Homo sapiens: one gene and its partners. The protein of the gene in region 6 purifies or fractionates together with the protein of the main gene of each other region. This does not show direct contact. Each region holds a gene or a part of one and is shown on either strand. Other genes may lie near its edges. The genes, in order: ANAPC7, EPB41L3, NAP1L4, ANAPC1, SMCHD1, TAF4 and SUPT3H.

Region 1 (3,500 bases), on a different chromosome or scaffold from region 6:
GAACACAACATACGCTACATGGTGTTAAAGGTAATGTCATTCACAAGTGACACCTATTTATTACTCAAGTAAACGACTTTGCATAACACAAGCCCAAGTCTCTTCTTGTCCTTGAACTTTATCTGAATATAAAGAAAATCCCTAGTCCTAAGCAGGCAAGCTAGGTTAGACACTGCAATAAACCAAGCTTCTGGTGAGTGCAAAATGATTTTCTTCCAGGCTGAAGAATGATACACCAAGGCCAGGCATGGTGGCTCACGTCTATAATCCCAGCACTTTGGGAGGCCCACGTGGGAGAATCACTTGAGCCCAGGAATTCAAGACCAGCTTGGGCAACATGGTGAAATCCCATCTCTACAAAAACATACAAAAATTAGCTGGGTGTGGTGGCATGCGCCTGTAGTCCCAGATACTCAGGAGGCTGAGCAGGAGGATGGTTTGAGCCCGGGAGATTGACAGGTCAAGGCTACACTGAGCTGTGACTGCGCCACTGCACTCTAGCCTGGGAGAGAGAGAGAGAGAGAGAGAGACAGAGAGACAGAGAGACAGAGAGAGAGAGAGAGAGAGAGAGAGAGAGACAGAGAGAGAGAGAGAGAGAGAGACAGAGAGACAGAGAGAGAGAGAGAGGCAGAGAGAGAGAGAGACAGAGAGAGAGAGACAGAGAGAGAGAGAGACAGAGAGAGAGAGAGAGAGAGAGAGAGAGAGAGAGAGAGAGAGAGAGAGACCGACCTTGTCTCAAAAAAAAAAAAAAAAATGACACACCAAGGTAGCCTGCTTTGCTTTGCAAGGGTTACTACCTGTGCAGGCACAGAGCTAAACTCAGTCAGATTTCTATTTTTACAGGTCTCCAACAGAGATGATTACATGATTACATTTGGGACCATTCAGTATAAAAGACTAACACATCCCAGAGACTGGCTGCAGCACCAACAGCAAAGCATCTCATTTTTCTTTTTGCTACTTCAGATACATCAGACTTCCAGACAAGCAAAGGGCCTCAAGAACACTGAATTAACTTTGTGGCTCTCACCAGATGGTACTGATTGCTCTTGAGTTGTCACCAGTGTGCACAAAAGCATACGCTTTGATCCACACAGAGAGCCAGTCCAAGTTAGGCACGGTTTGGATCACATTCATTGTCATGGATGCCACCTCTGCCCCTTTTACAGAAAGGGACAACAAGCCTAAACCAACAGAAAGCAGAAGAAAGAAAGTAAGGCACGATATCTCTCTTCCACATGCAAGGAGCAACGGGCTACATCTTCCCTTGGCTAAAAGGCAACTGCTTCCCTATTCTGAGCGATGCATGAGAGAAAAACCATAATTTAGTATTTCTTTTCTTTTTGAGACAGTGTCTTGTTCTGTCCCCCTGGGCTGGAATGCAGTGGCACAATCTCAGCTCACTGCAACCTCTGCCTCCTGGGTTCAAGCGATACTCATGCCCCAGCCTTCCGAGAAGCTGGGACTACAGGCACGCGCCACCATGCCTGGCTAATTTTTGTATTTTTAGTAGAGACGGGGTTGTGCCATGTTGCCCAGGCTGGTCTCGACCTGCTGAGCTCAGGCAATCCACCCACCTCAGCCTCCCAAGGTGCTAGAATTACAGGTGTAAGCCACCATGCCCGGCCAAAAACCATAATTAAGTATTTCTTGATTGAATATGTGACAACAGGAATCCTACTAAATCACTCTCTTCAGGGGAACTTTTAAAAAAAATAAAGTTATTCTAATGTACAGGCAAGATTGAGAACTACTATCTTTGACAGTAAACATGCCATGAAAACAGGCAGGAAATATCTCTACCTAGAATGGCATCAAGGGCTAATGGGCACTGCCTCAGCACCTCCTTATAGCTGGTGACTGAAGGGCGCTCCTGACCAGCCTTCTTGTACAGGTTTGCCAGCATCATGTTTATCTGTACAAACACAAATAACAGATAGCAAAATAAGCGTATATTGCAAAGAAAATCTCTCACCATGAAAAAGTCCTAATTTTCATTACCAGTTATTTACTTTTTACTGGAAAATCTACCCACAACCCTGTGCAAATAAAGGCAGACTGACCCCATTCTTCAAAAGAAAGAAGAAATTGGCCAGGTGCAGTGGCTCACGCCTGTAATCCCAGCACTTTGGGAGGCCGAGGTGGGTGGATCACGAGGTCAGGAGATTGAGACCATCCCGGCTAACACAGTGAAACCCCGTCTCTACTAAAAAATACAAAAAAATTAGCTGGGCGTGGTGGCGGGAGCCTGTAGTCCCAGCTACTCGGGAGGCTGAGGCAGGAGAATGGTGTGAAACCGGGAGGCGGAGCTTGCAGTGAACCGACATCACGCCACTGCACTCCAGCCTGGGCTACAGAGTGAGACTCCATCTTAAAAAAAAAAAAAAAAAAAAAGAAAAGAAAAGAAATTACTACCCTTCCTTTCCCTAGCTCCTGCCTTCCCTAAGAGGAAAGTCACATTACCTTCCCACAAGGCCCAGTAATATCTGAACAAAAGACGCTGCCCTCTGGAAACTGGAATAACATTCATTTAAGAAATGGTAGAGAACGCTAGTTAACTTGATTCTTTCTTGATCTTAAAACAGAAGATGAACTATCTCACATAAGAAAGTGAGAAACTCTTGACATAGCTAGTTAAGAAGGATCAGCTCAGTTTTTCCTAATAAGGAAATGATACAGAAAGACAGATAAAGAAGTATAATACTTGGCTTTTCTTTGACAATTCGACTTGTGGCTAGACTCTAGCCTTTCTAACACTTAAGGCTTTGGCCCGTAGGTACTAACTCACTAAAGTAATGCTACAAAAATCAGCTACACTATTTAAATCCAGTGAGTGCAGACAGCTGCATTTTAGCGTAATTTAAATATGTAACTTTGTAAAGCTAAATTAAAATAATCCTACCTAACATGCAACTGGGAAATGAGAAAATCTAAAAGTTCTGGCCGGGCGCAGTGGCTCATGCCTGTAATCCCAGCACTTTGGGAGGCCGAGGTGGGTGGATTACGAGGTCAGGAGATTGAGACCATCCCGGCTAACACAGTGAAACCCCGTCTCTACTAAAAAATACAAAAAATTAGCTGGGCGTGGTGGCGGGCGCCTGTAGTCCCAGCTACTCAGGAGGCTGAGGAAGGAGAATGACGTGAACCCGGAAGGCAGAGCTTGCAGTGAGCCGAGATCGTGCCACTGCACTCCAGACTGGGAGACAGAGCGAGACTCCGTCTCAAAAAACAACAAAAAAAACCCACAAAAACAAAAAAAAAGCCAGAAAATCTAAAAGTTCCTAAGAATGTAGAAGTTATAGGCAAGTGATAAAAGACCTTCCTAATAGTACACAGATAAACACAATATTCCAATTTAAAATTAGATTTTTTTTTTTGAGACGGAGTTTCACGCTTGTCACCCAGGCTAGAGTGCGATGGCACGATCTCAGCTCACTGCAACCTCTGCCTCCTGGGTTCAAGTGATTCTCCTGCCTCAGCCTCCTGAGTAGCTGGGATTA
Region 2 (3,500 bases), on a different chromosome or scaffold from region 6:
GTTATATGGAAGAGTCAGCTTGCACTCTGCTGCAAGAAGCTGGGAAGAGTCTCTGCCAACCTCTGTAGGCAAGGATGATGCAGGCTCCTAGACTACCTGAATAGGTATTAATAGTTTATTAATATCTATTTCTCTGTGTTTTATATCAATTTCTTTCAACTTCTTCAGAGTCTGTGTGTCTCCAATTTCTTCTCACTCACTTTTCTCAGGCTGTAAATAGGATTGTAAAAGCAGAGAGAAGAGGAGTGAAAAACCAGCTCTCTCTGAGCCTGCTTATGCCAGCACCACAACCCCATCTCACTCCTCACTGCTAAACTTTAGGAAGCAGAAGCCACGACCTGCTGCCTCTGCTACCTACTCCTGACCTCAACACACCTGGCAGGTGCTCCTGTTGCCCTTCTGAACTCTGAAATGTCATCATGGGGCCTGACTGTTAAGTTCAACACACTTTTGTTAGTCCACATCCTGCGTGCCCTTTCTGTAACATATGATACTGCTAGCTAACCACTTTCCTCTGAAACTCATCTCCTGGTCATCCATCAGCCTGTTTCTTCTTTTATTTCTCTGGCTGTCATTTCTTCAGCTCCTTGGCCCTTTCTCAAATAGTGGTATTATCCAGAGTTCTAGTTTTGGGCCTTTTCTTTCTCTAACTTGCCTTGCTCTTTGAGTAATTTATTCCATGTCTAAGGCCTTGAATAAAATATATACAGTTGATAACTCTGTTCAACTCCTTCCTATGCAAGAGTTACTCCCTGAAAATCTGTTTCAAAGGGATTTCAGTTGTTTTTCTGAAATTTTCCCCCTTTTCCCTCCTGCCGAATGTCATCTCCATTGGCTTCAATCATGCAAACTGAAAACCTTTGATTATCCTGGACTTTTCCCTCTTTTAATTACTTCCTCTATCCTGTCTCTACGACCTGCTGCTTCTGCCTCTGAAACCTCTCTCTTGCATTTGTTCCCTCCCGTCTATTCCCACAGCCTCTGCCCTAGTTTAGGTCTTATCACATCATGTTTCTAAGTCGTTGAATTTCATTAAGAAATGTATCATTCCAAAATATTCACCTAGTTGTGTCACATCCTGATTTAAAACCTCCCATGACTTACTAGTTGTCCACTGATTCATTTCTCTAGCTCTCCCCTCTGGCATCTCACAATACTATGCTCACTCCATGTCTACAGAATATCATCTCATTTGCATCATGCTGTTACAATCAAAGTATATGAGTCCGTTTTTCTGCTAAATAGAAAATCCCTTAACAAGGAACAAGGTCATATTTGTCTTTAGATTTCTAATGTCTGACAATAAATAGGTGCTCACTTAACAAATGTTCAATGAAGTCAAATGACTATCTATTGGCTATAAGTTTAATATACAATCTTTAGGAAATATTTTTAAAACACTATAATTTTAGTTATTTACATGAAAAGCTTACAGATTATTTCAGTTATCATAGATAGGTATGATGTTATGTTCATACTAAACATCATTACATGCTTTATGTTTCAATTTTTTTGTTATTTTTGAGACAGGGTCTTTGCTCTGTCACCCAGGCTGGGGTACAGTGGTGTGATCAAACTCACTGCAGCCTTAAATCCTTGGGCCCAGGTGATTCTCCCACCCTTGGCCTCCCAAAGTTCTGGGATTACAGGCATGAGACACCATGCCCAGCCGATATTCTGATTTTTTAAATTGCATTTTCCACCAAGAAACTCCAGTAGAGAAGTAGATTTTGAAGATAAGAGATAATTCTATATCATATCAGAAAATGTTCAGAGATATAAGTATGCTAGAATCTTTGAGCTTTGACTGCCTCTGTTATACTAACCATACCAATTAGAAATTTGAGGTATTTATTAACTATCTCTTAAGTAAATAAGAGTAGATATGTGTTACTATTATGTACAAACCACTAAGGAAGATATAAACGTAAGTTGATCATGGAGGCTGTTGTCCAAGGAGTAAGGACTAGTTAACAATTCTGATTGTCTCATTAGCTTCTCTGACTTAAAACAAACAAACAAACAAACAAACATATATTGAGCTATAGAACATTGATATAATTCACACTAATTGTCCTTTGTTCTAATATTCCTTGTACCTTGAAGTACAGGACCTCTAAACTGTTCACTTTAAAGTACAACCAGATTTGCAGGACAAACAGAAAGAGCATGGAGAAATAACAACAGCATGTGGAGGAAGAGATTTATCCATTACTGCTTGAAATATACACAAAATTATTAATGATACTGGAATTTTTTTTTTTTTGAGACGGAGTCTCGCTCTGTTGCTCAGGCTGGAGTGCAGTGGCACGATCTCGGCTCACTGCAAGCTCCGCCCCCTGGGTTCACGCCATTCTCCTGCCTCAGCCTCCCGAGTAGCTGGGAATATAGGCACCTGCCACTACGCCCGGCTAATTTTTTGTATATTTAGTAGAGATGGCATTTCACCGTGTTAGCCAGGATGGTCTCGATCTCCTGACCTTGTGATCCACGCCCCCACCCCGCCCCCGGCCTCCCAAAGTGCTGGGATTATAGGCGTGAGCCACCGCACCCGGCCGAGACTGGATTTTATATTAAAATATGTTTTTAAAAACCCTCCAATTAACGTATGCAGTAGGAAATATTGGAACAATATAATAAAGAAGAGAATATTTATTACTGTTTATTGGGCAAACCTACAATAAACTCTCTCAGGCACTTAGATGTCATTCACTGTGTCCCACAATGCTCAGAACTCATAAGCAGATAATTTAAATGCTTGCTTGCTATCAGGGATCTTTCCTCCCAACGCACAGGCAAATGTGGGTATACTTACCTCTCCCGGCCGGATCTTAATGTAAAAGTTGTTCCGTTTGTATGAAATCTTTAGAACCTTGGGCCAGGCAAATCTGTTTATTCGCAGCCGGTCGCGATATATCAACAGACCACTTGCACAAACTCCTAACATAATTTCTACCCCTTCTGAGTCCTGGAAAATAAAAGCAAGAAACAACAGATCAGTATCTAACTTATTTCCATTTTCTGCTGGGTAAAGTATTTAAGCATCCACGACAGAAACTATAAATGGCTGGTTTACTTATGCAAAATGATGCAGCCATTTTTAAAACATTACCATTAAACATTAGCCTTTTGGTGAAGATGTTTATCACTATGGAGAGGTTTGTTAGAATAAAATCTGCTCTCCCAGGTGTCTCAGACTTACAAAGTAAATACTGCACACCAAGAGGGCCCAGCTCATGAAGGTATGTTAATAACGGTAATAATAGTAGCCACAGTTCTCACTTGTCAATTGCCAGGCACTGCTCTGCTTTACATATATTAACTCTTTTAATATTCACTGTAATTGAGATGGTCACTATTATTATTCCCATTTTACAGATGAGAAAATAGGTACAGAGTTCCAGCTGAACACAGCCTGGTTCCAGAGGCAGCACTCTTAACCAACACGTATGCTAACAAGATGGACCCTGTCTTTTCCTATGAGGGTTTTGGTTGTTGTT
Region 3 (3,500 bases), on a different chromosome or scaffold from region 6:
CACAGGGTGAGACTACGGCTCTGGTAGACATTACTTAATTTTTCCAATGAAATTCTGGTGCATGGCATTCTTTTAAAAGTATGGTCTAGTCTTCTTAAATTCCACCTTTTCATATGAAAAGGAAGCTCAGATCAGGAAAAACCAAGGCTGTTCTATTTTAGATGCTTTCTGGTCTGGAAGGAGAATAAGAAATACATCATTCTTTCCATCTTTTCTCAAGTTTTGGCTTAGGACACAGGACAAGCATTAAACAAGGGAGGTAGCAGAGGCAGCAATGTGATACATTTGTGAAAACCATTAAAAACCGTAGCTGTAAAATCCTGTGCAAATTACAATGTAGCAGTTTGCAACGCACAGTGCCTATGCTCTGTGATGGGAGAAGCACTCTGCCCACACAAGCAGAGCCTGCAGCTGTCCTGAGCAAGTCTGAATGCAGACGTGCTGTTTCTGGGGACGCTGGAGCAATAAAAACTGACGGCAAGTCAGTCAGTGAGACTTAAGGCAAGATTTGTTTCTCTGTTCTAGAAACTTCTATTATAACTCATTTCAGGGAAAACCAAATTTGTTACCTTTTAATTTGTTCACCATTTCACTACAGAAAGTGAAATGTCAAGGCAAGACAAAATCAGAAATGGTGGTTGGGTTTTGTTGTTGTGTTGTTTTTTTTTTTTTTTTTTTTTGGAGACAGGGTCTCGTCACCCACCAGGATGGAGTGCAGCACCGTGATCACAGCTCACCACAGCCTCAACCTCCTCGGCTCAGGTGATCCTCCTGCCTCAGCCTCCCAAGTACCTGGGACCACAGGCGCACACCACAACGCCCAGCTAACTTTTCTATTTTTTGTAGAGATGGGATTTCGCGATGCTGCCCAGGCTGGTCTCAAACGATCTGCCTACCTTGACCTCCCAAAGTGCTGGGACTACAGACATGAGCCACCATGCCTGGCCTCTTTTTTTAAAAAAAATAGACACTTTTTCAAGAGAAATGATCAGAAAATATTAGCAACTTGTTCAAAAATTCACTGAGATGTGTGTGTACACACACACACACAAACAAACACACAGCTCATCCCTTCAAAATTCATTCTGCTCTGGTCTCCTGCCCTCACCCTTTCCTGCACACTCACACCACAGGAAGACAGAGATGGGCTCTGGAATCTATTCATAGGCTTTCCCACAGGCAAGACAACAGAGCTTTACAAGAGGTAAAAGGAACTGATTTGAAAGTTTTGGATCAGGCTGAAGCGCCCAGCTTTCCACCAAGAACTGCAAAAGACAGCATGGAAGCCCCACTGTGAATAAACCATTCACTGTGAGATCAGGACTGCTCATCTGAGGTCCTGGTCAGAGAAAGTGCCCTTCCGCCCACTATGAACAATCTTTCAATGCCCAGTGTAGTGCTTAAAAAATGCCATAGATAAGTAATGTTAGAAGACTAGCACATAATCTCTCTACAAGACAGAAGTGTGCTTACCTGGACTAATTCACTCAGCATGTCCACATTTCTGAAGATGGTAAACCAGAACTCTGGAATTCCTTTGGGATCTGGCTCTTCAGCCGTTGCCGCTGCTTTTTCTGTGACGACTACTTTACTTTTCATGTCTCCCTAAAAAAAAGATGCAACATAGGTAACGAAAATAAAAGTTTACAAACAATGCAGCGGCTTCACGTAGAATATCGTTGCCGAATCCTCTACTATCTCCCATCAAACACCTTGCTTTCTAAGTCTGCACCTCCAAACCACTCACTGGGCCACGCGACACTTTTCAGATGCTTCTGAGGAAAAAGCATTCAAGTCATTACATCCACACGGAATTCCGTACCATTTCACATCAAAGGCGAAGAAACTAAAGAGATGACAAAGTGCCACCGACGCTGGGAAAGGCCATCCAGTGCTAGCTCTGTGAGGTGCCATCCTGAGACAATCATCATCACAAATGCAGATGCAAAGACTGTACATCAACCTTAAGGAGATGCAATGCAAATATGCAGAACATCTAGCACTGGGCAAAAAAAGTCCAGTGCAAGGATAAAGAAGTTCACTTGGACTAATAATCTGACCTCTTGTTAAAATTTGTGGGGTGCTAAGTTGAAATAAAAAAAAAAAAAATTGCCGCAGCAGTATCTGCAGCAAGAAAGTGCTCAGCAACTTATCCAGCTTGTAAGGAAGTGGCTATAAATGCCAGCTCAGACACCACGCAAGCATCAGAAAGTGACCAGAAAGGCCACATGGCAAAAGGAAGGGGAGTCAGGCCCCAGGGAAAAGGTAGACCAAGGGAGGTGAAACGCAACACCAGATGCAACTATGGGAAATTCTGAATGCCTTGCCAAACGGGATTGTTATGATGAAATGATCTTGAAATGAAAGGCCTTTTAAATCAGCAAAGGCAGATTTCCCTTGAGCTGTTAGAAACTGATTCACAACTGTATTAATCCACAGCCATGGCTTCAATTAGGCCAGGTTCTATATATTTTTAAAGCATCAAAAACACATATGGCTACCAAAATCATCATATACCACCCCCCCCCCAAAAAAAAAACTGCAAAAAGTTAGTTATAGGATAAAAGTTACTTGTCTCCCAAACATAAAATCAGGCTGACAAAGTTAATCCATGGTACACTGGGAGTTTTCACAGCACTGGAATGGGACCAGTCACTAGAAAAAGGCTGTGAGCAGGTGACTGATGGCCACACCACAACCACCATCTGCAACCAATCCACTGGCGGAGCACCTCTCAGGGGGCAAGCTAGTCCATGCCACTGAGCAGGAAGGCACTCCCCTCACAACTCCCCCAATCTTCCAGTGACTGAGAACACAGGGGCATCTCTTCTTCATCTTTGCTTTCTCTGATGTTTTAATCTTTGTTGGTCTGATCCCTTATTTCAATATGCTCCTGTCCACAGATAACTGAGGTGGCACTACATCTTACTCCTATTAACTGACAGTACTGTGTCAGATGCTAGATCCATATCAGAAAGGAATCTAAACCCAACCTAATGATGCAGCAGCACCTACTGTTAGAAGCACATAAGTTTACTAGTCATTAAAAATCATTAAAAAATGCTTATTTTTAACAGTATTAAAACAGAACATGAGTCACATGTTTCTAAAGACTTACAGCCAATTTCTCTTCCTCTTCATTTTCACTGTGCCATTCCGATTCCGCATCTGTTGGTTCAACATCGCCGGTGATAAATTCTCTTCTCTACATAAAAATGAGACCTTATTAGAATTATGTTATTAGCTTACTTAGGAACTCAAGAGTTAAATTTATAAATAATGTCTACTAAAAGACTTTGAAAACTGGATATTTTTATAACTTATTTTAAGATTCTAAATTTTAGGGTTCAAAGAAAAATATTAAATGATTCCCTGGGTAAACCTGGATGTTTCACCTAAAGATGTAAAATAAAGACAGTCCCCGATTTCCAATGGTTCAGCTAAAGATTTTCAACTTCCTGATGGTGCAGAAGCCATCACACTTTGGGCACCAATACAGC
Region 4 (3,500 bases), on a different chromosome or scaffold from region 6:
TCCCGCCTCACCCTCCCGAGTAGCTGGGACTGCAGTTGCCCGCCACCACACCCGGCTAATTTTGTTTTTATATTTTTAGTAGAGCTGGGGTTTCACTGTGTTAGCCAGGATGGTCTCGATCTCCTGACCTTGTGATCTACCCACCCACCTCGGCCTCCCAAAGTGCTGGGATTACAGGCGTGAGCCATCATGCCCAGCCAAGCTTGATAATTATTAAAACTGGCTGATGGGGATTCATTATCCTATTCTGTTTACTTTGTATTTATTTGAAATTTTCCATTATAAAAAGTTTATAGTCTACATTCTGGTTTCTTTAAAAAAGTCACGGAGAAAGAAAAAAAGGTGGGGACTGTTCTACATTGAAAGAGACTAAAGAGACATCACCAAATGCAGTATTTTTTGATCCTTGTTAAATGAACTTTGATTGAGTCCTGGTTTTCTAGCTAAAAAGATATTTTTGGGGAAAATTTGGGAAAGTTGAAAATTACTGGCCAGTAGCTGATGTTAGAGAAGTATTATTTTTTTCTCAGGGACGATGATTTTATGGTTTTATAGGAGAACATCTTTATTTTTAGAAAAGGCATGGTGAAGTATTTAGGGGTGAAATGTCATGATGTGTGTGCAATTTATTTTTAAACAGTCAGCATTCCCATTCCGAAAATCCCATATGTACACAAATGCACACACACAAACAAATATGGCAAAATTTTCATGATTGTTGGATATAGGTGAAATATGTTTGCTGCATTATTTCAACTTTTCTTACTGAAAATTTTTATAACAAAAAGTTGGAGGAAGAACTAATGCATTTATTGTAGTTGAATTAGGGTTGACGAGGTTTTGGAGGCTTTGACTAATGTTAAGTTTCATTTTTGTAAATGCTGAAATCTTTGTATCTGGATACTGCTTCCTCCCACTCCTCCCGCCTACCGTTAACTATTTCCTGATGAGTACTGTATTCTATTTATTGGAAAGGATAAACTGAATCATTATTCCAACATTTGAGGGCATATGTGAAAGCATTTGTGTCCTGGAGTGTTGAAGCCAGTGATCTTTTTGATGGTAAATTTTTTCCCATATAATTCATATAGTTAGTATAGATGTGAAAAGTGCATTTGATGATATCCAAGTAGTTCTTTGCTTCTATATCTTCATCTTAATTTCTCCAAGAACAGTTGCCTATTTACTAGATTCTATGGAAGTGCAGTTAGATATATTATCTCCTTTATCTTAAGATCACTTGTAAGTGTAATTGTAAGATTTGGAATTTCAGTCTTTTGATCTGGAAAATATATTGTTACTTAATCTTCTTGCTAATATGGAGAAAGATAATTTTCTATTTTGTTTATGAAATAATATCAGGTATATGTGACTCAGATTTTATCTGTTCATTGTTTTACCTATCCTGCAAGTATTTTTTTTTTGGTTGTTCTTTTTATTTTTTCATTTATTCTTTTTGTTTTTTAATAGAGATGGGGGTCTCACTATGTTGTCCAGGCTGGTCTTGAACCCCTGGGCTCTAGTGATCCTCCTGGCTTGGCCTCCTAAAGTGTTGAGATTACAGGCGTGAGCCACTGTGCCTGGTCTTCTGCAAGTATTTAGTCTCACTCTGTTTCAGCCATTATGCTGGGGCTACAAAGGTGAATGTAGTTTCTGCCATTGAAGGACTCATAGCCTAGAAAGGAGAACAAACAGATCACCTGAAATGCTGTATTCTGAATGCTGTATAATAACTACCTGTCCACAGAGTGATGAGAGCCCAAAGGACTGAGTGCCAAAGGGAGGGTTTTTCAAAGAAGATGCTATTTGTGTTATAAAATGGTGGCAGAAGGGCATTCTAGGCAGAGGAAATCACAGCAAAAAGAATTATGGAAAAAGATGACTTTTTAAACTTCAGAATGGCTGTACACGAAGTGTGGGTGTGGAGAGATGCAAGTGGATGCTGGCAGTATACAGACCAAAGGGCCTTGTATATAAACCAAGGAATTTGGATTTTAAACTGTGTGCTGAAGGGAGCCTGCCAAGGATTTTAAAATGGAAGCGATCAATTTTGTGTTTTGAGAAGAGATTGCTTTGTTAGCAATATATATATAGGATTGACTGGAGAGGAGGGAGACTGTTGTCAGGGGCACTATTTTGTGACTGTTCAGGTAAAAGATTGGTGCCTTGGCAAAGAAGGGGTGATAAAGCAGAGGGAGATGTGGAAGGGGTTAGTGATCTCTTAGATATCAGGGATAAAAGAGATGTTAAAATATTTACTTTTAGAGGCTGAGAGGATGGGATTTCATCAAAGGAAGTTGAGACTGTAATCGGTGCATTGTAGATTTTGGACATTTCAGGTTGGAGCACAGCTCTCATGCATGGTTTTCTTCCTGAATTTTCATTTCTTAACCATTAAAATCTCCCACAACTCAACAATAAAACAAACTACCCAATTAAAAAATTGGGCAGAAGGACTTAAATGGACATTTTTCTAAAGATGCACACATGGTCAGTAAGCACATGAAAAGATGCTCAGCTTCGCTAATCATTAGGCAAATGCAGATTACAACCACAATGAGATACCACTTTACTAGGTTGGCTGTTATTAAAGAAACATAACAAATGTTGGTGAGGATGTCCAGAAATTGGAACTCCTGTGCATTGCTGATGGGAATGTAACATAGCTGCTGTGGAAAAGTTTGGCGATTTCTCAAAAAGTTACACGTGTAGCCAGGCATGGTGGTGCATGCCTGTACTCCCAAGCTGTTCAGGAGACTGAGGCAGGGGGGTCATGTGAACCCAGGAGTTCTAGGCTGCTGCGAGCTAGAATCATGCCTTGCATTGCAGTTTGGGTGACAGAGTGAGACCCCATCTCTTGAAAGAAAAGTTATACTTAGAATTACCATTATGATCCAGCAGTTCCAGTTCTAGGTATATGCACAATTGAATTGAGAACAGGGATTCACAGATACTTGTACACCAGTGTTTTCAGCAGCATTATTTATGATAGCCAAAAGGTAGAAACAACCCATGTCCATTGACAGATGAATGGATAAACAAATGTGGTATATGCTAACAGTGGAATATTGTTTAGCTTTAAAAAGGGATAAAATTCTGATACATGTCATAACATGGATGAACCTTGAAAACATTATGTTAAGTGAAATAAAATAGATATAAAAGGACAAATGTACAGTTTCACTTACATGAGATACCTAGCACAGGCCCTTTCATAGGGAAAGTGGAATAGAGGTTACCAGAGCTCAGGGCATTGGGAAATGGGGAGTATTGTTTAATGGGCACGGAGTTTCTGTTTGAGATGAGGAAAAAGTTCTGGAAATGTGCAGTATTGTACAAGCTCACAAATTGTACTAAGCTCGTCAATTTAATGTTAATGCTACTGAATTGTCTACTTAAAAATTGTTAAAATGTTAATTTTCATATTGTGTGTATTTGACCACAGTTTAAAAAAAAACACAAAATGCTGTTAAATAATAAGTGATTGCCAGGTATGTCAG
Region 5 (3,500 bases), on a different chromosome or scaffold from region 6:
GCATTTTATAGCACGGAGGGAAGAACAGCCATGCTTTGTAAGACATACAGGTCCATTCAAACGAATAACTTTAAAAATTAAAGCAAATTATAAATTAGAGGGAAACTGGCCAGGCATGGTAGCTCATGCCTGTCATCCCAGCACTTTGGGAGGCTGAGGCCGTCGGATCACAAGGTCAGGAGTTCAAGACCAGCCCGACCAACATGGTGAAACCCTGTCTCTACTAAAAATACAAAAATTAGCCAGGTGTGGTGGCGCACACCTGTAATCCCAGCTACTCAGGAGGCCAAGGCAGGAGAATCACTTGAACTGGGGAGGCGGAGGTTGCAGTGAGCCAAGATCACACCACTGCACTCCAGCCTGAGCAACAGAATGAGACTCCGTCTCAAAGAAAAAAAAAAATTAGAGGGAAATTGCAACAAGAAACAAAAGGGTGACAAGGATCAACAAAGAGAAAAAGTAAAAACACAAAAAAATGAAAAGGAGAAAATACAAATGACCAATGAACACATGAACTGTAAAATCACATTAATCAAAAAATGAGAATTAGAAAAGTGGTTAACATTTTCATTTACATTAGAATTAAAACATACATGCTCTGTCTAAAATGAAACAATACAGCAATATATAGTTAAGAGAAAAGGCTTCTGTTTCGGGTAGTAATGGACTAGTCTAAAGATTAACATTCTTATTGAAAACATCTAAAAAATCTAGACTAGTGATACTCAAATCTTCAAAAATGATATTAATAAAAACCATTATTGCTCACCACTGGGATGAGCTAGGGCACCAACTTGTCACTCTGAACACTGACAAATTAAAGGGAAAGAACAAATTATTTACACTGCTTTTCTTGTATCAATGGTACTTCAGGATAACCAAAATAGCTCTGGCTGATGAGGCAAAGTTGTTCCTTAAAGAATTCCAGCTAATAAACACAGGAGGAATGGCAAGTCAGATCAAAACTTCCTTATGGAGGAATCCTGCTGAAATCACGTGAATCCCAAGATTTTAATGTTAGCATTGCTATGAGTGGGTGAAACACCCACACATCACGTGCCTCCCAGTGTAATGCCATATGAAGTATCAGTACTACCTACAAAGCATTCTTTGCCTCCTGACCCCAAAGAAGTTGAACCTAAATCAAATCAAGCCTTTAAAGCTAACTTTTAGTTTACAGAATACATACGGAGATAAAACAAATTAAGTAACACCAAAAAAGAGCACAAACAAATCCATAATGTGGAATATTAAAGACCTAGTTGATTTCTTCAAGAGGTCAACTGCAGGAAAACTAAAGAGACTGGTGGAGGAGGAATTTGCTCAAATGCTTTAAATTGAAAATAATTAGGAAACAAAAAAAAAACAAATTTAATGTGAGGACTATGTCAGATCCTGATTTAAACAAACCAACTATAAAAAGATACTTTTAAACATTCAGAGAACTCAATATGGACAGGGACATTAGACAATATTAAAAATGCTTTATTTTAATGGTTTGATAATACATATTCAGGCTGAAGTATATGGGGTGAAATGACCTAAGACCTAGAATATGCCTTAAATACATTACAAAAACAAAAATGATCCTAGTGTGGTAAATTCCTATTAACTTGAATCTGGATGAGTACACTGGGGTTCATAACATGATTCTCTCTTTGTGTCTGAAGGTTTTCATAAGAAAATTTCTACTTTAAAATATCCTGGAATAGGCCGGGCGCGGTGGCTCAAACCTGTAATCCCAGCACTTTGGGAGGCTGAGGAGGGTGGATCACGAGGGCAGGAGATCGAGACCATCCTGGCTAACACGGTGAAACCCCGTCTCTACTAAAAGTACAAAAAAATTAGCCAGGCGTGGTGGCAGGCGCCTGTAGTCCCAACTACTCGGGAGGCTGAGGCAGGAGAATGGCGTGAACCCGGGAGGTGGAGCTGGCAGTAAGGTGAGATCGCGCCACTGCACTCCAGCCTGGGCGACAGAGCGAGACTCCGTCTTAAAAAAAAAAATTCCTGGAATAGACCAGTGGAAGAGAATAGAGGGCCCTTAGACAGGTCCACATATATATGGATGCAGAGCCTAGCAAACAAGAGAGGTGACATTACAAATTGGTGGGGAAAGAATAAACTATCCAATGAATGATATTAAGACAACTAGTTATCTCAACATGGAAACAGATAAAATCCACACCTTAACTTAGACAAAAATAAATTCCAGGAGAATTAAAGCAGTTGTACATTAGCCCAAAATTGTAAAAGAACACATAGGGAAATAATTTTGAGTGAGCATAAAGGGATTTCTGAAAAGGTACAAACAGTGGGCCAGGCACAGTGGTTCACAGCTGTAATCCCAGCACTCTGGGAGGCCAAGGTGGGCGGATTGCTTGAACTCAGGAGTTCAAGACCAGCCTGGGCAATGTGGTAAAACCCCATCTCTACAAAAAATGGAAAAAAAAAAAATAGCTGGGCATGGTGGTGCACACGTGTAGTCACAACCACTCAAGAGGCTGAGGTTGGACGATCCCCTGAGCCTGGGAAGCCGAGGCTGCAGTGAGCCGTGATCACACACTACTGCACTCTAGCTTGGGTGACTTTTGAGTGAGACTCTGTCTCAAAAGATGCAAATAGCACAAGTCATAAAGAAAAAGACCAGACAACATAAAAAGATCAACATCACTAGTTATCAGTGAAATTAATATAACTTATTCTCATCAGGTAGGCAAAAATGTTAAATTCTGAGCCCATCAAGTGTAGGCCTCTGTACAGAGAAATAGGTACCTTACACACTGCTGATATGACTGAAAAAAAGTCAAACATAAAGAAAGTAATTAATTTGGCATACTTTAGTAAACTTAAAAGATACTCATATTCCATGCAATTCCACCCTAGAGAAATAAAGCCATGAACATAAACTGACTGGGAAGATTCTATTTGTTTAACAGAGACAAAAATGACCTTATAGATTTTTATTAGGTTTCATATAACCATGACAGTCGTGTATTTTTTAATTCATTACTACTTTTTTATTTCTATGATGTCCCTTTTTTTTTTTTTTTTTTTTTTTGGTTTTTTGTTGTTATTGTTGTTGAGATGGAGTCTTGCTCTGTTGTGCAGGCTGGAGTGCAATGGCACGATCTCAGCTCACTGCAAGCTCCGCCGCCCGGGTTCACACCATTCTCCTGCCTCTGCCTCCCAAGCAGCTGGGACTACAGGCGTGTGCCACCACACCTGGCTAATTTTTGCATTTTTAGTAGAGACAGAGTTTCACCACGTTGGCCAGCTGGTCTCAAACTCCTGACCTCAGATGATCTCCCTGCCTTGGCCTCCCAAAGTGCTGGGATTAGAGGCGTGAGCCACCAGGCCTGGCCAATGTCCCACTTGTTAAATCATGTAATTATGCATCCTGTAGTTACTGAAAAACTATGTGCAAATGATTTTTTTAAGATCTATGTTCACCTAAACATATCTAATTATTCCATATAATCCCACATAAGTCTATTATTTTT
Region 6 (2,292 bases):
CAGAGACCGTTCCCAAAGGCTCTCCAAGGTGCTCGAAGGCAGGGAGCGGTACACATTGGCGCTGAGCCTCTGAGGGCCCAGCAGGAGCTGTGACCTGTCAGGACCAACCAATACCACAAACTGCCCTGGAGACGCCCTCTCTCGCCACAGGAGGTCTGCGTCAAGGCTGGGGCCCTCTGGGCACCTCAGCCGGGCTCGCCACGTGCGTTTCTGTGTACATCTCCCCCAGCACTGGGCCTCCCGCCGCCCCTCCTAGCTGTGCCCAGCTCATCTCCACCTGTGACAGCAGAAGGTGTTAAGCGCAGCCGCCAGCCCCCAGACTCCACGCAGAGAGTAGCTCGGCCCCTGTCCTCACAGAGAAAGTTCTTTCTCCCGGCTCTGATGGGGCTCAGCTACAGATTCCAACAGGTGGCTCAGAAACCAGCACCTCAGCAGAGCCGGAGTGCAATCTGGCAGTAGAATCTAAAACTGGAAAACGGAGGAAAAATAGGCAAAACAAATACAGATAAATTTGTTTTTAATAAAGGAGTTAATTTTCTTTCAATCCTATATAAAACAATAGCAATTAAAAACTTCATTTCTGAAAGTAAAATATTTACATATGAACAAGTAACTGTGCAAAATTTACATGAAAAAATGGAAAGACAGGGATTTCCTAAAAGACAAAATAAAAGGTGTAACAGTTCTCAGGTGTTGATAAAAAATACTGATCAGCGTTCAGTTCACACGCGCTCGAATTAAAGTCTAATGTGAGAATTCACACGGAGAAAGCCAGAGTATTTACAGTCATAAAAGTACTATCAATAGACAATTTCATACAATAACCTCTGAAAATAGAAAGAACCAATTAGTATATTTGTAATAAAAAAATAGGTACAAAGAAGGGGCTTTGCTCTGGACGTCTGTAAAGTCGGCCCAAGGCTTGCATACAGTCTCTTAGCAAAATAATTATAGTTTACATAGCCATTTCTATGTCATGTGCCAAAAGTTATGTACAATTACTGACAAAATACACCAACCATTTTTCAACACTTGATTCACACCGAGAAACAGTCTTTTGATGATTCTTCTCAACTTTGATTTTATTTAATCTAGGTTTTCACTTTTAGCTAAAAAACACAGTGCAAGTAAAATATATTTATGCTGAAAAGGTTTTCATCTCTTTTAACTTTACAGCTTTACAAACTATAGCAAATAAAATGCATTTGTACAGATGCTGACCACACATTCAGAAGGAGCCACCTTTGCTGGGCTCGGCCTCTACCAAGCAGAAATGCGATTACACTCTGAGGTGGGGGTGCAACGATGAATTGTGTATTCCTCCAGGATTCTCAGCGGAGTGGAGGGGAAGGGAGGGGAGGGGAGGGCAGGGGGCAGAGAGGAGAGCGGGGTGGGAGGGGAAGGGAAGGAAGATAAATAGTCTAAAAAATCAGTTTGCTTTGCCAACTGACTATTACAAAAATAAAATAAACGAAATGAGGTCATCGGCTGTAGACATACACCTACATAGTAAGTTAGGTAGAACTAAACCAAAATGCACAAATAATGCAGAAACTGCTATGAGTTGACAGAGGGCAGCTAATTATTTGCTAACGATTCCATCAGTCTTTATATATGGCTTGTTTGGCAGGAAGGCCACTCAATCAAGATGAGTTAAGATTTAATTGTCCTTTAAGAGTATCCACAGGCCTTTGTGTTCTCTCTGTTACAGAAACGTGTTTTCTTTCACACTGAAGAGCTGATTTAGAAACAGGAATATAAAACTGTTCCATTGTAAAGAGGTGGCTGTTTTTTAAACAATATCCCATTTGCTCGTTACAAAAAGGCGTAATCTGCAAATATATAAAAAGTCCCCAGGCGTCCTCCTGTGTCACTTAAGGAATGCTTTGTAGAGCAGCAGTGAATGGCTTGTCTCACGTTCATTTTCTAAACAAAATATGAGGTCCCTGAGGTTGACCCGCGTGATTCTTTGTCGCGTGAACTGTCTGGGGGTTCCGACACCCGAGCTGCCTGGGACCACTGAGCCGGGGCCCGACCCCTGGTGATGAAAAAGGAGAAGACAGTGTGTTAGTGGGGCTCAGAGTGGGGCTTGCAATGAGCCTGTGTATCTGAGCCAAGTACCCCGATTCCAGAGGAGGCCAGGCCTGGCACGGGCTCCTTCCGGTAGGCCCACAGCTGGAGCTGGGGTGCTGTCCAGGGCCCTGCCAGGGCAGGGGCAAGGGCAGGAGGCCCCATGCTGCACCTTCAGGACAGGGCACACTCAGATGCTGCCCAATGCCCCACAGTGCTTGG
Region 7 (3,500 bases), on a different chromosome or scaffold from region 6:
TTGATGTTAGCTGCTGATTTTGTCAAGTGATAAAGGGCAGGAAGGAAGACTTCCAGTCTCTGAATATTCATCTTGACTACCAGTCACAGGAGGGGAGGGGTGTCTGCCAGCCAGAAAAAAGTTTGAGGCTTATACTAACATATTTTGTCAGGAGGCTCTCTGACACTCATGCTCCCACCTCCCAGAGAGCCCAGGAAATCCAGCACATATAGGATATTCCTCTCAACTGCTGGGTAGCTGGGAACAGCGGCTGCGGTTGCTGAGCAGTTGCCTAGGGCAGCTTGGCCACCCTGGAGAACCAAGAAAAGAGGGGAAATAAAGAGTTTTCCTAGGCATGCAAGCAATCACTTGAATGTTAAAAGAAAACTAGGCCCGTTGTGTTCACAGTAAATTTTCTCAATTAGAAATGTTATAACAAATTTGTCTGATGTTAATGGAAAGCATACTTATACACATATTCATAAAGTGAACAAACATCAAAGACATTTTAAAGGGGGTTTTTTGACATCATAATTTGGGTTTGTAACATAAAGAAAACAAATAGTGATTAATCAACTAAGTAAGCTTTAGGGACTTTTGTATGTTGACTGATAATGATGTATGACCTTTTCTAAGAAAAAAATGGATTTTTAATGGGCATAAACATTTTAATCCCTATTTGGTTTCCAAGCCAATTTGATTTTCCAAGGGGCATAAGAAAATGTTGAATTGTCCTTTTGTTTGTAATAAGATGCTATATGGGCATATATGTTAACATATTTTCTATGTATCCTAGAGCAGAGAAATTTAAACCTAGGGTCCATAGGGTTCACAGATCCCTTGGATCCATAGAATGGCTTCAGAATGTCTCTGAACAATCTGAAACTGTAGGCAAAATTTGTGAATGTGTTTATAGAAAAAGGGTTTATAGTTTTCATCAGATTCTCAAAGGGGTGTGTGACCTAAAGAAGATTACAACTACTTCTTAGAAATGATTTGAACCACTATCCTTGCCTATAGATATTTAACAAGGAGTAGAAATGTGTAATCAAGGTATGGCTATAAAACAGAGCTTAGCCATTTTCAGGTTATATATTTCAACCAACTTGATCCAAAACGTACTTCACAACTCTACATGTAGATGCGAACTTAACCTTCTTGCTGTCTTATCTATGGATATTCGATTGAATTACGTGAAACTGCTGTTTTTGTTAGTGAAAAGGGTCGAATATTGGCAAATACATTCAAGACACTGCAATACATTTCTGGTTTTGAGGTAGATGCTGTTTACAGAGGAGATTCTGTATACTAAAAGTGGTGCACAGTTATTATACAGAGCCTTAAAATTGGAAAGAAAACTTTACGGTTCCCATAGCAAAGCCAGATCAGAAAAGAATATAATTTTCACATAGTAGGGGCAATCTAAAAACTCAAGATGAATGAAGACAAGCTTCTTTAAATCATTTTTAGAGATGAATCAATAACTGAAATGGAAAGTTATCAATAAATGCCAGGGATTATTTTGTGAATAATAATGATAACCCTCTTATCTTTTGAAGCACAAAGAAATAAATGACTTTTCCAACATTACCTAAACCAGTTTTTCATCTCCCATAAAAATAAGAAATGCCTTGCAACTATCCCTTTCAATGAAGGGGTAGGAAAGCTAAGTGAAGCAAGAAAAACGTGAAAAAAGTCATTGTCTTAAGTGGACTGTCAGGGCCTGGCACACAGTAGGTGCTCAATTAAATACTTATTTGAATGTCTAATGTATTAAGATTCTTTGACTGAAGGTTATACACTCCTGCATAATCTTTATTAAAGAATCACTAATGTAAATACCAGATATGTGTCAAAATTCACAAATGTTTTAAGACAGATTTTTTTTGTACTTACCTCAGCAGAGTTGTGATACTGAATGAAGGTTGCAGAAATGGCATGGCTGAAGGGGTCCCCTGCCTTGGTTACCATGTCTTGCCTCACAAGAAGAGCCAGATCCACTAACTAGAAGACCAGAAGAATGAAAGTCACATAGCTAGAAATAATCATGAATGCCACTGAAGTGGCAAACCTAAAAGCAATACATTCTGAATGTTACTGATAATCCTGCTTGCCTAAAAATCTATATTGTAGACATGAGCACACACTTTCATTGACTGGTGAATGGACCTAGTCATGATATATTCTGACTTTTTAGGAGAGTAGTTCTCAAAATTTATTTCACAGTCACTAGTGCAAATTTCTGGGCTTTAAGTCCAGAGATTCTAATTCAGTAGGTCTGTTTTAAGCATATAGTCTAGGAATTTGCTTATTTTATTTTATTTTATTAATTTTTGAAATGGAGTTTCGCTCTTGTTGCCCAGGCTGGAGTGCAATGGTGCGACCTCAGCTCACTGCAACCTCGGCCTCCTAGGTTCAAATGATTCTCCTGCCTCAGCCTTCCTGAGTAGCTGGGACTACAGGTGCCCGCCACCATGCCCGGCTAACTTTTTTTTGGTATTATTAGTAGAGATGTGGTTTCACCATATTGGCCAAGCTGGTCTTGAACTCCTGACTGCAGGTGATCCACCCACCTCGGCCTCCCAAAGTGTTGGGATTACAGGCAAGAGCCACCGCGCCTGGCCAGAATTTGCATTTTAAACAAGAACCAAGGAGATGCTGATGCCTGTGGTCTAAAGACCACATCTTGAGAAAGTCTTTTAGAGGGCGAGATTCCAGACCCAGAATTTGGTAAGTACTCCTAAATTCTCACATACGTAGAAAGGTGTTTTTCAAAGCTCAAAAATAATCTCTAAACAAGGCAGATGTGGATTTGAGTTCAATGTCAAGAAAAAGCATGCAGGGATTCCATTTCTCATTAAGATAAAGGTACAAGAACTCTTTTTTATCCTAGCATCCACTTGAATTGAGGATGCAGAGACACATAACTGAACTAAATTTTAGAAAATGATGTAAATGCCACAGGAGAGAATTCATGGCTGTTATTACTGGTAGAGCAGCAGGGAGAAGAAGAATTGATCATGGGCAGAGATAAAGAAAAACCAGCCAGTGTGGCCCGATATGACAGATTAGAATTCTTACCTGTGCCACAGTTTCATACGCTAAATATGCTAAGATTTCCATTGCGACAACATTGGGTTTTATCTCCATACTGCTGCAGTCCAACCAGTCTCGAAATTTGGAAGCTTTTTTGGCTGGCCATTTAAAAAAAACAAGTGCAGAAATTTTAATTTTTAAAGTGTTTTAATACTGCACATTACTATCACAAAATTAAAAAAGTATACTCAGAATTGTACACAAAAAATAATGCACATAAAATGCATAATTAATGTCTAGATATTCTGGCCCCAAGAAATCCAAGTTTTAACTCTCAGTTATAAGGCAACACAATGGTTGTTTTCAACAACTCTCTTACGTATTTGGGTCTTTTATTTTACACCTATGCTATATGACATAGTATATTAAAGCATTTAATGTTTAATACTTCTCACACTGTCAGATTTACCATTGGCTACCGCTCA

The links.
Region 1: the proteins of TAF4 (region 6) and ANAPC7 fractionate together in Homo sapiens (co-fractionation; one large-scale study listed by BioGRID). This does not show direct contact.
Region 2: the proteins of TAF4 (region 6) and EPB41L3 purify together in Homo sapiens (affinity purification with mass spectrometry, with the first as the bait; one large-scale study listed by BioGRID). This does not show direct contact.
Region 3: the proteins of TAF4 (region 6) and NAP1L4 fractionate together in Homo sapiens (co-fractionation; one large-scale study listed by BioGRID). This does not show direct contact.
Region 4: the proteins of TAF4 (region 6) and ANAPC1 fractionate together in Homo sapiens (co-fractionation; one large-scale study listed by BioGRID). This does not show direct contact.
Region 5: the proteins of TAF4 (region 6) and SMCHD1 purify together in Homo sapiens (affinity purification with mass spectrometry, with the first as the bait; one large-scale study listed by BioGRID). This does not show direct contact.
Region 7: the proteins of TAF4 (region 6) and SUPT3H purify together in Homo sapiens (affinity purification with western blotting; one study listed by BioGRID). This does not show direct contact.

The regions. Positions count from the first base shown.
Region 1 is NC_000012.12:110,386,709-110,390,208, forward strand, and holds part of ANAPC7 (anaphase-promoting complex subunit 7), read right to left. Parts: intron 1,916-3,500; coding exon 1,804-1,915; intron 1,185-1,803; coding exon 1,031-1,184; intron 1-1,030. UniProt on the Homo sapiens protein: Component of the anaphase promoting complex/cyclosome (APC/C), a cell cycle-regulated E3 ubiquitin ligase that controls progression through mitosis and the G1 phase of the cell cycle.
Region 2 is NC_000018.10:5,425,498-5,428,997, forward strand, and holds part of EPB41L3 (band 4.1-like protein 3), read right to left. Parts: intron 2,969-3,500; coding exon 2,816-2,968; intron 1-2,815. UniProt on the Homo sapiens protein: Tumor suppressor that inhibits cell proliferation and promotes apoptosis. Modulates the activity of protein arginine N-methyltransferases, including PRMT3 and PRMT5.
Region 3 is NC_000011.10:2,968,330-2,971,829, forward strand, and holds part of NAP1L4 (nucleosome assembly protein 1-like 4), read right to left. Parts: intron 3,206-3,500; coding exon 3,119-3,205; intron 1,606-3,118; coding exon 1,474-1,605; intron 1-1,473. UniProt on the Homo sapiens protein: Acts as a histone chaperone in nucleosome assembly.
Region 4 is NC_000002.12:111,874,194-111,877,693, reverse strand, and holds part of ANAPC1 (anaphase-promoting complex subunit 1), read left to right. Parts: intron 1-3,500. UniProt on the Homo sapiens protein: Component of the anaphase promoting complex/cyclosome (APC/C), a cell cycle-regulated E3 ubiquitin ligase that controls progression through mitosis and the G1 phase of the cell cycle.
Region 5 is NC_000018.10:2,662,226-2,665,725, reverse strand, and holds part of SMCHD1 (structural maintenance of chromosomes flexible hinge domain-containing protein 1), read right to left. Parts: intron 1-3,500. UniProt on the Homo sapiens protein: Non-canonical member of the structural maintenance of chromosomes (SMC) protein family that plays a key role in epigenetic silencing by regulating chromatin architecture.
Region 6 is NC_000020.11:61,974,298-61,976,589, forward strand, and holds the end of TAF4 (transcription initiation factor TFIID subunit 4), read right to left. Parts: intron 2,039-2,292; coding exon 1,871-2,038; 3' UTR 501-1,870; downstream 1-500. UniProt on the Homo sapiens protein: The TFIID basal transcription factor complex plays a major role in the initiation of RNA polymerase II (Pol II)-dependent transcription.
Region 7 is NC_000006.12:44,951,435-44,954,934, forward strand, and holds part of SUPT3H (transcription initiation protein SPT3 homolog), read right to left. Parts: intron 3,174-3,500; coding exon 3,061-3,173; intron 1,984-3,060; coding exon 1,876-1,983; intron 1-1,875.